Linked DNA regions of Homo sapiens. The protein of the gene in region 1 purifies or fractionates together with the protein of each later gene. This does not show direct contact. Each region holds a gene or a part of one and is shown in the gene's direction. Other genes may lie near its edges.

Region 1 (9,044 bases):
ACAGCATTGATTACATTTCTCGGTTCAATGACCTGGCCCAAGAGCTGTCCATCGCTGAGCCTGGCCGCCGAGAAGCTCTGTTTGATGGTGGTGGAGGCGGCCCCGCTGTCAGTGACCTGTCCCAGTGACCACACGTCCTGGTGGCGGATGAAGCCCTCTTCGAGCTAGAGAAAAATAGATAAGCCCAGCAGCCCCAGAAGATGGTCTGAACAGAGGCATCTCCGCACCCAAGACTGTGCAACGGGCAGGAACGTGGTCACAGAGCTGCTTCCCCACGAGCAGCAGGCAACGGCGTCCAAGGAGACTAGGATGAGTTCTTGGCAAGGGCCAGCGTTAGAAATCACTGTGGTACTAGAGCCGTTCTTCACCACGCCTGGGCCCATGTTAGGGTCTGCATAATGATCCCATTTCAGCCTGTGCTCTGCCTCGATTGTTGTGTTGGACATTCCGGTGGCATTTCCTTCTGAGACAAGGGAGTATGTGTGCCTTGGTGTAGTTGCTGTGCACTAGGAGCTGTGATCTCCCTCTCTGCAGGGAGGCCCCAGCCCCTGCTGCTTGCTTTCTGCCAAACCTGTGCTATGCATCAGCTGTGCCCTCTGTGGACTGTAACGGGCAGGACAGTTGGGTGTGGCCTGGGCTCATGCCTGGTGGTGTCACATCCCAAGGCAGCAAGAGCATGGATACCGATCACAGGGCTGCTGCGGAGTCGTGGGGCCCTGGGCTGGTGCCTCCCCTCCCTAGAGGTTTTGTTCGTACTCTTAACAGGGAGTGGGGGCAGGAAGAGTCCTGTACTATGCAGGTTGTGTGGACTTTACATGGGACCCTGCTAAGCTGGTTGAAAATGTTTTTCTTGTGTTTTAAGAATTAGGAGACATGGAAGAGGAAGAACAAAGTCCCCTCTGTAGTTGGTTTCCTTCCTGTGTCCCTTTGCAAGCTTCCAGGCGATCTAAGGTGTCATTTCTCCCTCCTGGGGTGACCCTTAGGCGCTAATATGATTACAGCGAAGACTTTCCTGATAAGTTCTCAAACTCGATGTGTGACTGTTTGGCACTTGAGACAAACCTGCCTTTGCAGGGAAAGTGTCTCTCACGGGCATTGGTGTGGGCGTGCCTGACATACGTGTTCAGTCCCTTGCATACCTTTGCCTTGAGACTTCTGTGTCTCCTTCCCATTTGGGACACCCAGGTGAGGGCCCAGACATCTGGATGTGGTCAGACCTCACCAAATATATGCCTTCGTGGTGGTCTCCCTCCTTGCGCCCTCTTGGGTGGCCAGCGTTCCTACTGCAGACGGCCCAACATCCAGTCTTTCCCCAGGACAGAGCTAACAAGGGCCCCTTTGCCTTCTCATCCTCAGGAGTTCCAGGCACATGAGTCACCGTCCATCCACATCCAGTGTGGCCTGGAGCTGCTACAGAGGTGTTGGGCAGGCCATGCCTGTGCCGCCATCTCTCCCTTCCTGCCTCATTTCATCCCCCGCAGCAGCCGGGATTGATTGTGCTTTCCTAACCCCCTTGGACCTACTCTCCCTCCTCCCCACCATTCCTCTTCCCCCACATGTGTGGCACGCTGCAGCCCTCAAGGCCAGCCCTGGCCCCTCCACTGCTTCTCTCCCCATCCACAATGGAGAAGGTGAAAAGAGGAGGGAAAGGCCTTTGGTGTGGACAAGCATGTGGACGCCCTCCGTCCTGCAGTCTTGCCAGCCCACCACAGCCACTGTAGACCACAGGCAGGCCGTGTACTGCACCACTGGGAGGACGTGGAGAGGACAGTGAACTTCCAGGCAAGAGCTTCCTTCTTTTGTCTCACGAGTTTTTCTTAGAGCTCTTGCCTGAGCTGGCTTCCCTCCTTCAGACATTGACATGAGATCTTAAGCAAACAGTCCCAAACCTCTTAGGGGTGAAAAAAGAAACATGCCACTTGATTAGGAGAGAGACAGCAGTGTTTGAACTACAGCATCTTTACACTAGCTTGTGTTTTGTGCTACGTATACCAGCTTCCAAAATTAGCATCTCATTGAGCCAGAGAAGACAAGGAGATCTCCCTCTGGGCATCTGGCTTTGCTGCGTCTCTAGAGGGTTAGGATACCAGGCCGAGTTCAGGCCACTGCTAGCTTTCTCATACTCCCACAGGCTAGACCAGAGATGCCAAGTCCCAACAGCACTGAGCTGTGTGCACTGTGCCAGGGACAGGAGGGTTTGTGAACTGCCTGTCAGGGTACCTGTTAGCCCCTGACAACTCAGTGGGGTGAAGTTTTGGAGGTCAGAGTCTGCTTTCGTAGGCTCTTTAGACAGCACCTACCACTTGGTTCTCCAGCGTAGACTCCTGGGAGCAGCCAACTGCAGCCATTGCCATCCAGTGGGGAGATGGGTTAGGGAGGAGGACGGGCTGACTCCTCTCCTGTAATAAAGCTGACAAGAGTTCTAGAGGATTCTGCTTCTCTAGTAACTAGACAGGTGATACGCATTTGCTTGCCACATTAAGGGAAAATGGTGTCATTTGTTGCAGAAAAACAATGGATACATTTTCTTCTGGCCTAAATGAATATTTATGTGCAAACATAGGCAACTGTTAAAGGCTGGAATTTTCAAAAGATCCAAACAGAGACTTCCTGCATCTTCTGCCTTTCCAACAGAAGCGGTGATCGTCTAAGTATGAGCCTGTGGCTTCCTTTGTGCATTTGAGCATGCTGTAATTAAGATGAGATCAGTTTCTTAGAAAAAGCTTTCCTGAATCCCTCTGACGTTGCCTGGGATCTTTCTGTTGATTCGTCTTTTCTGGAGATTGGGACAGAGCATCTGTGGTCCAGGGAAGTTAGTCCTCTGGCCTCAATTCTGTTGTGGATGTGCAGTGATAAGCGGGCATTGCGTGCCTCGGGGGATGCCTAGTTCGTGGCTTCCTGGCTGTTTTGTCCTTCTGTGTCTTGTAGCTGTAGGGTGCCAGCTCAGGGAGTGGGGTGTTGGCGGCGTTTCCGCGGTTGGCCTCCTTGCTTTGCCGCACCTCCAGGTTCTGGGCATGAGAGGCCGTGGCCTCATTTCTGGTGGATAACCTTTTTAGTTTAATAGCATCTTTAATTAGATCACAGCATTGAATTCAAAATTTCTTCTGCAAAGAAAGTTGTGGGGCATAAGACACCGGGAATGAGGGAGGAGGAAGACAGTTGTGTTTTCTCTTTAAACCTTGAGCTCTAGCCGATGCATTTGTCAGGAAATACAGCACTTTGTCTTAAGAAAACAAGGAAGGAGGCCGGGCGCAGTGGCTCACGCCTGTAATCCCAGCACTTTGGGAGGCCGAGGCGGGCGGATCACCTGAGGTGGGGAGTATGAGACCACCCTGACTAACATGGAGAGACCCTGTCTCTACTAAAAGTACAGAATTAGCCGGGCGTGGTGGCGCATGCCCATAATCCCAGCTACTGAGGAGACTTGAGGTAGGAGAATCACTTGAACCTCAGCGGCGGAGGTTGCAGTGAGTCGAGATCGCGCCAGTGCACTCCAGCCTGGGCAAGAAGAGCGAAACTGGGTCTCAAGTTAAAAAAAGAAAGCAAGGAAAGAGTAATTTACAACGAAGGAAAAAAACCCACAGCACACCCTTCGCGGCTGTCAGCGCTCTCCTGATGTCACAGTGGCTGCGTGTCCTTGGGGTGGGTGAGGTGTGGGGAGCCCAGCCCCTGGCCCTGCCTCCCGCGCCCCGCTCCCCTTCTCTCTCTTACTCGGTTAAGCCATAGCGAGGCCTCCGCTCGTTTCAGATATGAATTTGTTTTATAGATTATAAATATGCATATACAGTGTATGTATAAAGCAGAATGCCTGCCTTTCCTGGTTATTTTTTGTACCATATTGTAAATTATATTATTTATTCTTTACCAATTTTGGGAATAAAAGGTGTTTTGGTTATTTAATATAATAAGAGCTGTTAAACTTCTGTTTAAATTTCCAGTTCAACTTGTAAATGTTTTTATTGTGCATAAATACATACTAATGTTGATCTAAGGACTGTCGTTTGTGCCTGTTCTTCAGGGCCGCGCGCCCATGCCCGCAGTCCCTGGTCGGGCAGGTGCGGCCCAGGTGCGGCCCCGCGGTCGGCTCGCGGGCTCCCGCAGACCGGGCTTCCTCCCGAGGGCGCGGCCGTCCCAGGGCCCGCCCGGCCCGCCGCCCAATGCGAGCTCCCACCTCCGCGAGCGGCGTCGCCTTCCCCAATCGGCTGCGGGCGCGGCGCCGACCGTTCAAAGCCTAAGTCGTCGGGGGTGGGCGTGAGGGGCGGTGGCCGCGCTGAGATAGGCTGCGGAGGGATGATTGGCGTCTTGGCGCCCAATGGGCGCTGGCGGGCGGCCTTGAGTACCTGCGCTGGGCGGGCGGGAACGGCGCGCGGCGAGCTGAGGGTGGCGGCGGTCGACATGTTCCAGGTCCCGGATAGCGAGGGCGGCCGCGCCGGCTCCAGGTGCGGCGCGGGGCACACGGGAGGCGGGCGGATAGCGCGACCACGTGGCGGGAGCGGGCCAGCCCAGGGCGTCCACCAGCCGTGTGGGGTTGGGGTGGGGTTGGGGGGCAGGGCGACCTCACAGAGGCCCTCGGGGCCGCCGCCCGCCTTTCTGCGCCGCCGCCAGACCGAGGCCCGAAGCCCGAGGGGCCGCTCGCTGAGGCCCGGGCTGTGGAGAGCTGCCCGCGACCGAGGCCGAGGGCGGGGAGGGGCGCCCGGGCTCTGGGAACAAAGCTGTGTGGAGGGCGGGCTGCGCTCCCTCGCGCCTGGGCGCCCGCGTTCCGTGTGGTGCGTTCCGTGGGGGGTTTCCTGGGGGCGGGGTGTGCCCGTGGGTGCGGCCCATTTTGTCTGTGGGATGCGTGTCCATGTTCCCGGGGGGGTGTCCCTAAGGGGTGTGCGGCGATGTGTTCGTGGGGGGTGTCTGGCCATGCCCCCGCTCCTGTGCGTGTGGCCGTGTGCCCGTGTCCCTGGTGTGTGTGTGGCCTGTGCCCTGCCCATGGCCGCGCTTCCACTAGTTCATGTGAGTCCACTTCCTTTGGAAAGTGCCAGGGCGTCTGGGGAAGAGTCAGTTCTATCTCCTGGGAAGGTGGATGGCGCTCCTGGGCTTCGCTGTAGGAAGAAGTGGATTGGGACGAAGATATCCTGACTCAGCTTTAATAGCCAGGAACACTGAGCACACTTTTCTTATGTTTTTGAACTTTTAAAGCACTCTTTGGGTATTGGGACTCGCATGAATTAGAGGGACAGAGCTTACAAGGTCTTTCGTGCCACTTGAGCAGTAAACTTGCATTGTGAAGTTTGGGTCTTCAGATGCCTGAGGTTTTCTGTATGATGAGCCCCTCTGTGGCACAGCCTCGCCAGAGAAGTAGAAGAGAATATGTGTGCCATGACTGTTAAGACCAATACTATATTGCTTCTCAGCCTTTTGGCTATGATCAAGTGAAGACAAATACTATATTGAATAAATACTAAGTAAAAGAATTGCTCCAACTTGCTAAAAATAAAAACCCTTTAGATTGGCCGGGCGTGGTGGCTCACACCTGTAATCACGGCACTTTGGGAGGCTGAGGTGGGCGAGTCACGTGAGGTCAAGAGTTCGAGACCAGCCTGGCCAACATGGTGAAACCCCCGTCTCTACTAAAAATGCAAAAATTAGCCAGGCGTGGTGGTGTGTGCCTGTAGTCCCAGCTACTTGGAGAGGCTGAGACAGGAGAATCACTTGAACCCAGAGGCAGAGGTGGCAGCGAGCCAAGATAATGCCACTGCACTCCAGCCTGTACGACAGAGCAAGACTCCGTCTCAAAAAAAAAAAAAACCCTTTAGATTTGAGGGAGTTAGGTCAGTATTCAGTAATACTTGTAACCAAATAATTACCCGTGGCAGGGTGCAGTGACTCAACGGCTGTAATCCCGGCACTTGGGGAGGCCGAGGCAGGTGGACCACGAGATCAGGAGATCGAGACCATCCTGGCCAACACGGTGAAACCCCGTCTCTACTAAAAATACGAAAAAATTAGCCGGGTGTGGGGTGGCGGGTGCCTGTAGTCCCAGTTCCTTGAGAGGCTGAGGCAGGAGAATGGTGTGAACCCGGGAGGCGGAGCTTGCAGTGAGCCGAGATCACACCACTGCACTCCAGCCTGGATGACAGAGCAAGACTCCGTCTCAAAGAAACAGCCCTTCATCCATGGAACAGTGATTATTATGCCTAGGTCTGCACCGATGTGGGACCAGGAGTTTAAACTAGTGCTCAGAGCGAATCCGGTTTCTGGTTCCTGGTGGCCAGAGTTTTGCACCACCCACATCAGTGGGGGGAGGGACTGCATCCCCAGCCCTGTCCCAGTTGTGTGCATTTAGTACGTTTCCTTTTTGTTTGTGCTGCCTGGCACTGGCTGCCCGGTAAATGATGGTGTTTATTATCACCCTGAGCGACGCCGATGTTTTTATATTGACTTTCACGCTCCAGAAGTTAGCTGCACAGGGCCGCACTAAAGTCATACTCACACTACCCTGGGGGACTGGTTTCTGGACAAGGTGTTGAGAAAGGGAGAAAACTCTTCCTTTTAGGATGGTGAGGAAGGAAAGCCGGTCTGAACTGGATGATGAGGTATCACTGGAAGCTTCTGCTTGGGGTCCACCAGACGCTGCACATTTGCCACTCATCTGAACGGGGTCGAGTCGCAGGGCGGGCGCCTTGTAAGCGTCACATTTAGTTTTGCTGTGAAGCGAGTCAGGTGGTGGCTGTAAGATTACCTAGCCAGGTTTTCCTCTCCTGAGACCTCACATCTCTCCTTTCCTTGCTGAGGGATTGTCTTGTGTTAAAGGGGTTTCGTAAAAGCGTTATGCTTTAGCCGCGATTAACCTGAGGTCTTCCTTCAAGCTGGAACATTTCTATTTGTAAGGAATTTAATCCAAGTTTATTTCTCACTGCTTCTCTCTAAGCCTGACCAGTCCCCTCATCCTTTCTGAAACTCGGGGACAAACTATTAGAGAGGGTCAGGAGCATGGAGACCCCCGAGGAGGGTCACACAGCTTTTCCCTACCTCTCCAGTGCTGCAGTCCACTCCAGCTGTGTGAGGTTTTTCTTCTCCTGTGCGCTTGAGTTTCTCTTGTGTGTTTTGAATATCTTCACTGAAATATATGGAAGGGGTACCACAAAAGGCAAAAAATAATTGGGAAGCACCCCCCACTCACATTGTGAATTTGTCCCCAAATGTGTGAGCTCTAGCGTTCCCCCTCCCCCTATTAGTGTCATAGTGGTAAGTGCCTGTAGCCTAGAGAAAGCCACACTGCGCCATTGTTGTCGGGCTGTTTTTGTTGAAAGGTCTATTGAACGCTCAGTTCCATTCATCCGAGACCCCTTTGAGGCAGCCCAGCCCTGCGGTCTGTGTGAAACCTGCAGTGGGACCTGTTGCCTTTGTGACCGAGATAGCCGCTGCCCCTTGCCTGGGGCTGGGCCTGTGTGCGCCATAATTTCTGCTAAAACCGTCTTTGGTACCACTTTTTTTTCTTTGCTTGTTTTCAAATAAAATTCAGAAAAGCACATAGAACAATATTAAATATTGTGTTTCCATCACCCCAAAGTAACACTGGTCATTGCAAGTAACTACCACTCACCTCCTGCGCCCATTGGTCCCCATTCCACATGGAGGCCACAGACTCAATTTGGGTTTCACCTCTTCCAAATTTTGGAGTCCCGATGGCACTAGGCGTCTGTCACGTCACTCACACAGACACTGAAACCACCTGTGCAGAGCTCTAGCTTTCCTGTTTAAACTTGAAGCTCCTCCGGGGTAAGGACTTGCTTTCCTCTATCTACGGCGTCTGGGGAAGGATTGCCAATGATAGGTGCTCGAGAGATGTGCAAGTTGAACTGAAGCAAGGGTGAAAGGCAGAGGAGACAGGAGACTGTGAATGTAGGGAATGTGGGGTCGGGAAAGAGTCCTACAGAGCTTGCAGTCAAGGCGAGTCTACCTGGAATCAGATCTGACAGTTTGTAGCACCTTGAGGGCTTGAGAGAAAAGCCATATTTGAAATAAGTCAGTAAAAGGAATTATAGCTCATGCTCAGCTCACATAAGACTTGATAAATTCAGTTCAGTTCGAAAGATTGCAGGCCTTCATCCCTTATTTCCAAAGAGAGAACTGTAGAGACCCGTGCATGTTTAGACCTGCTACACTATCCAAGAAAAATCGCAGAATTGGCTGGGCACAGTGGCTCACGCCTGTAATCCCAGCACTTTGGGAGGCCGAGGCGGGCGGATCACTTGAGGTCAGGAGTTTGAGACCAGCCTGGCCGACGTGGTGAAACCCCGTCTGTACTAAAAATACAAAAAAATAGCCAAGCACGGTGACGCACACCTGTAATCCCAGCTACTCGGAAGGCTGAGGCGGGAGAATTGCTTGAACCTGGGAGGTGGAGGTTGCGGTGAGCTGAGATCGCGTCACTGTATTCCAGCCTGGTAACAGAGTGAGACTCCATCTCAAAAAAATAAAATAGGCCGGACACAGTGGCTCATGCCTGTAATCCCAGCACTTTGGGAGGCTGAGGTGGGCGGATCACCTGAGGTCAGAAGTTCAAGACCAGCCTGGCCAACATGGTGAAACCCCGTCTCTACTAAAAATAGAAAAATTAGCTGGGCATGGTGGCGGGCATCTGTAATCCCAGCTACTCAGGAGCCTGAGGCAGGAGAATCGCCTGAACCCAGGAGGTGGAGATTGCAGTGAGCCGAGATTGTGCCATTGCACTCTGGCCTGGGCAACAAGAGCGAGATTTCGTCTCAAAAAAAAAAAAAAATGTAGAATTAGGAGGGCTGCGTGATTCAAAAATGGATATGGAAGTCAGATGGCCTTATGGCCACTCTAAGAGCACCTCACCTAAAATCTTGTTAAGCCACGCCCTCCCACCCACCACCCTTTATTTTTTTTCCTTTTGGTGAAACAAGTCCTCACTCTTTCGTCCAGGCTGGTGTACAGTGATGCAATCATGGTTCACTGCAGCTTTGACCTCCTGGGCTCAAGCCAGCCTTAGCCTCCCGAATAACTGGGACAACAGGCGCATACCACCACAC
Region 2 (5,401 bases), on another chromosome or scaffold:
TGGGAGGCTGAGGCGGGTGGATTACCTGAGGTCAGGAGTTCAAGACCAGCCTGACTAACATGGCGAAACCCCATCTCTACTAAAAATATAAAAATTATCCAGGGGTGGTGGCAGGTGCCTGTAATCCCAGCTACTTGGGAAGCTGGGGCAGGAGAAGCACTTGAACCCGCGAGGTGGAGGTTGCAGTGAGCTGAGAGCGCCACTGCCCTCCAGCAGCCTGGGTGACAGAGCGAGACACTGTCTCAAAAAAAAATAATAATAAAATAAAAATAAACCATCAGTGATAGTAAAAAGCTCACTTAAGCTCATTCACCTAGTTTTATAGATCAGACTTAAACCTCTTGTTTATTTTGTTTTGCTTTATGTATCTATAGTTCCATTGTTTTTAAAATTTAAAATTAATTTTAAACCTTATGAATGCTTTCCCTACAGATAAAATTATGTAACTAGAACAATTTAACTCATATAAATTATTATTTAATCAAGTCCTTAATTTTGAAGACTTCATATTGATATGTCTTGAATACTTGAAATCTATAGTTAACTAGATATTTCTCTTATAACCTGTCCTTATAAATCTACATTATAAATAAAAAGTCCAGTGTCCCTTCCTTCAGATTAGCAGAAGTTTCAAAATTACATTTAAAGTATTTTCTTTGTTTTCCTTCATACTGATTTTCATTTTTATTGTTTGTTATAGAACCTCTAAAATGCAGACCTCCAGCTCTAGATCTGTGCACCTGAGTGAATGGCAGAAGAATTACTTCGCAATTACATCTGGCATATGTACCGGACCGAAGGCAGATGCATACCGTGCACAGATATTACGCATTCAGTATGCATGGGCAAACTCTGAGATTTCCCAGGTCTGTGCTACCAAACTGTTCAAAAAATATGCAGAGAAATATTCTGCAATTATTGATTCTGACAATGTTGAATCTGGGTTGAATAATTATGCAGAAAACATTTTAACTTTGGCAGGATCTCAACAAACAGATAGTGACAAGTGGCAGTCTGGATTGTCAATAAATAATGTTTTCAAAATGAGTAGTGTACAGAAGATGATGCAAGCTGGCAAAAAATTCAAAGACTCTCTGTTGGAACCTGCTCTTGCATCAGTGGTAATCCATAAGGAGGCCACTGTCTTTGATCTTCCTAAATTTAGTGTTTGTGGTAGTTCTCAAGAGAGTGACTCATTACCTAACTCAGCTCATGATCGAGACCGGACCCAAGACTTCCCGGAGAGCAATCGTTTGAAACTCCTTCAGAATGCCCAGCCACCTATGGTGACTAACACTGCTAGGACTTGTCCTACATTCTCAGCACCTGTAGGTGAGTCAGCTACTGCAAAATTCCATGTCACACCATTGTTTGGAAATGTCAAAAAGGAAAATCACAGCTCTGCAAAAGAAAACATAGGACTTAATGTGTTCTTATCTAACCAGTCTTGTTTTCCTGCTGCCTGTGAAAATCCACAGAGGAAGTCTTTTTATGGTTCTGGCACCATTGATGCACTTTCCAATCCAATACTGAATAAGGCTTGTAGTAAAACAGAAGATAATGGCCCAAAGGAGGATAGCAGCCTGCCTACATTTAAAACTGCAAAAGAACAATTATGGGTAGATCAGCAAAAAAAGTACCACCAACCTCAGCGTGCATCAGGGTCTTCATATGGTGGTGTAAAAAAGTCTCTAGGAGCTAGTAGATCCCGAGGGATACTTGGAAAGTTTGTTCCTCCTATACCCAAGCAAGATGGGGGAGAGCAGAATGGAGGAATGCAATGTAAGCCTTATGGGGCAGGACCTACAGAACCAGCACATCCAGTTGATGAGCGTCTGAAGAACTTGGAGCCAAAGATGATTGAACTTATTATGAATGAGATTATGGATCATGGACCTCCAGTAAATTGGGAAGATATTGCAGGAGTAGAATTTGCTAAAGCCACCATAAAGGAAATAGTTGTGTGGCCCATGTTGAGGCCAGACATCTTTACTGGTTTAAGGGGACCCCCTAAAGGAATTTTGCTCTTTGGTCCTCCTGGGACTGGTAAAACTCTAATTGGCAAGTGCATTGCTAGTCAGTCTGGGGCAACATTCTTTAGCATCTCTGCTTCATCCTTAACTTCTAAATGGGTAGGTGAGGGGGAGAAAATGGTCCGTGCATTGTTTGCTGTTGCAAGGTGTCAGCAACCAGCTGTGATATTTATTGACGAAATTGATTCCTTGTTATCTCAACGGGGAGATGGTGAGCATGAATCTTCTAGAAGGATAAAAACAGAATTTTTAGTTCAATTAGATGGAGCAACAACATCTTCTGAAGATCGTATCCTAGTGGTGGGAGCAACAAATCGGCCACAAGAAATTGATGAGGCTGCCCGGAGAAGATTGGTGAAAAGGCTTTATATTCCCCTCCCAGAAGCTTCAGCCAGGAAACAGATAGTAATTAATCTAATGTCCAAAGAGCAGTGTTGCCTCAGTGAAGAAGAAATTGAACAGATTGTACAGCAGTCTGATGCGTTTTCAGGAGCAGACATGACACAGCTTTGCAGGGAGGCTTCTCTTGGTCCTATTCGCAGTTTACAAACTGCTGACATTGCTACCATAACACCGGATCAAGTTCGACCCATAGCTTACATTGATTTTGAAAATGCTTTTAGAACTGTGCGACCTAGTGTTTCTCCAAAAGATTTAGAGCTTTATGAAAACTGGAACAAAACTTTTGGTTGTGGAAAGTAAGTGGGATACTTGGAATCAAGGCATCTCTGTAGTACAGTCTTCTTTATTTTTTAGCATAGAAAGTTGGGGATGTGTTAATTGTATTTTTAAGAATATATTCTAAGTTCTGTACTTCAAATAATAGCACAGATTTTACATCTGATTGACATAGTGTATGTTAATGTAAGTTTTGCTTTCCAGTGATTACCTGATACGTAAGCCTATTTGAACAAAGTGAGAATGAACTTTTGTTTCTAAGAAGTCTTTATCTTGAAGCTATATAACATGAAAAGTGAGCTCAAATTTTTTTTAGTTGAAGATTACATATAAAGTTGTGTCTGATTAATATTCATCTTTTATTGAAGAAAGTGCCTTCTGATGGCCACATAATTCTTAATGTCAGCTAGTATAATGGTTTACATTTGGACAAAGTATTGCTTAGTGTTATTTAAGTAGATTTAAGATCTCAAAGCTAAAGTGCCAATTTTTACTTTCTTCAGCCAATTTGTTACCTCTTTTATGGTTTTTAATTTTTATCAGGACTAACATTTTCAGAAATAGCAAGGTGTGATCTAGTATTAGATTCACAGAACTGAAAGGTTAATTAAGAATGTTGGTTATTTTCACGGGAGCGTGTGATATTTAACATTAATATTTTATTTGACACTACAGCCTGTAATACTGCTCTCTTTCAAAAACAAGTTTTCAGATTTTTATAACAGACCCATTTTGTTTTATGAAACATGTTCATTACAGAAACATGAGAAAATAGAGATAAGTAAAAAGAATAAAAGTCACTATTATCCTACCACTTTGCGGGACACACTATTAATATTTAAGCATAGATTCTTCCAGATGTTTTGTTTTATACAGCAGTAGGATTGTGTAATGTATTCTCTCTTGTAGCCTATTCTTCAAAGCGTATCTTCACTTTCCATGTTAACATAAATGTCCTTTTATGATTGTCTAGGATTCCATGGATGGATGGAATATAATTGAGTCATCTGGTAGAGCGCATATAGGACAGGACGCTAGGTTGTTTATCTTTTGTTTATTGTAAAGGAACTATGTGGGATGCATTTGGTGATCTTTTTAAAAAATGTATAAATTTCTTGAGTAATTCCTGGATTAAAGAATATGCACTTTTTAAAGCTTTTGGCTTGCATTCTAAATTGTCCTCTTGAAAAAGTAGTTCCTGTGTAAAACTCCATCTGCACTGAATCAGAGCTATGGCAGCATTGGGCAGTAGGCAGTTTTGGTATTTGTTGGCATTCTTTTTGCATTTATTCAAAAAACTGAAGGTAGTGAACGTAGAGCAATGAACAACACAAATATCCTTGGTCTCGTGGAGGTTATATTTAAGTTCTAATGTTTTCTCTTGTGAACAGTGCAATTTGAAATGACAAATTGAAACACTTTTAGTTGTTGAATTTAGACAGTTTGTGTATATAGTTTAAATTTTTATTCTTGGTTTGCCTTCTGTTTTTATGTTAAAAGATTGTTGCAATTTTTAGTTTTTCCCTTTGTAATATGTGATTGTCTTTCATTAGAATTCATTTTTTGTTTTGTTTTGGTTATTTTGAAACAGTCTCGCTGTGTTGCCTAGGCTGGAGTGCAGTGGTGTGATCTCAGCTCACTGCAACCTCTGCCTCCTGGGTTCCAGTGATTCTTGTGCCTCAGTCTCCCTTGTAGCTGAGACCACAGGTTTGCACCACCACACCCAGCTAATTTTTGTATTTTTAATCGAGATGGGGTTTCACCATGTTGCCCAGGCTGCTCTCGAACTCCTGGCCTCAAACGATCCACCCACCTCAGCCTCCTGAAGTGTTGGGATTACAGGCATGAGCCACCACGCCTGGCCTTTTTTATTAGAATTTGGACGTTAAACTTCTTGTCTTCAGTTCTTAGTTATATCTTTTAACATCCTAAAACATTCCACAATATTCATTACTGTCTTTATCCCTTTCTATTTCTATATAAACAGCACTATAAACTTGGTTTCTTTGGTATTGATGTCAAGGAATTCTCTAGTTTTTCTTTCTTGGTGTTTAATTGCAGATCACTCCCACCTTCTTGGGTCTAGCTATTTAGATTTATCAGCATTTGCCCTCTAGCTGTTAATGTTTTATTTAGCTCTGAAATTTGGTCTTAATATTTATTATCAGTTTTTTTCAGTTACAGCTTCTGCCAGCCCTGACTTTAAGCTCCCTTGATCACCAGCCACAGGGCCACTTCTTTCTATGGAGTTTAGAAATTGTGACAAGGAGAGAAAGTCTAGTTGGTTTAGCTCATCTTGGATTAAGCAGAGCCCATGTCTCTCTTGTTAGCTCAAGAAATGGTCTTTCCTGAATTAAGGTCTACTCTGTTAAATAAGAATCTAAACCTGAAAGGAATAGTCAGGATATTTTAAAGCTGGAAAGAAAATTTGAGCTGGGGAGTCAACTGTTGTTTCTACGTTATACCACAGAGAAGCTTTCTTTGTCTCAACACTTTGTGATTTTGAGTGTTTCTGAAGCAGTTGGATAGGAAGCTTACTGAAACTTTAAGATTGCTTACTCTCGCCACATGCGATTGTCTTCATCGAATATAATAATCTTGGATTAAATTATCTCAAGTGTGGCACTGCCCTGTCTTTAGCTATTGTTTCAGAAACATGAATGCTAGCCTGATATTTAATGTCTTCAAAA

Evidence for each region.
Region 2: the proteins of JPT2 (region 1) and FIGNL1 purify together in Homo sapiens (affinity purification with mass spectrometry; 2 studies listed by BioGRID and IntAct, with this or other methods). This does not show direct contact.

The regions. Positions count from the first base shown.
Region 1 is NC_000016.10:1,673,918-1,682,961, forward strand, and holds the start of JPT2 (jupiter microtubule associated homolog 2), read left to right. Parts: upstream 1-4,361; 5' UTR 4,362-4,395; coding exon 4,396-4,439; intron 4,440-6,445; exon of another isoform or gene 6,446-6,573; coding exon of another isoform or gene 6,574-6,581; intron 6,582-9,044. Other genes in the region: CRAMP1 (protein cramped-like), read left to right, coding at 1-128. UniProt on the Homo sapiens protein: Nicotinic acid adenine dinucleotide phosphate (NAADP) binding protein required for NAADP-evoked intracellular calcium release. Confers NAADP-sensitivity to the two pore channels (TPCs) complex.
Region 2 is NC_000007.14:50,442,597-50,447,997, reverse strand, and holds the end of FIGNL1 (fidgetin-like protein 1), read left to right. Parts: exon of another isoform or gene 1-30; intron 31-700; 5' UTR 701-710; coding exon 711-2,735; 3' UTR 2,736-3,865; downstream 3,866-5,401. UniProt on the Homo sapiens protein: Involved in DNA double-strand break (DBS) repair via homologous recombination (HR). Recruited at DSB sites independently of BRCA2, RAD51 and RAD51 paralogs in a H2AX-dependent manner. May regulate osteoblast proliferation and differentiation.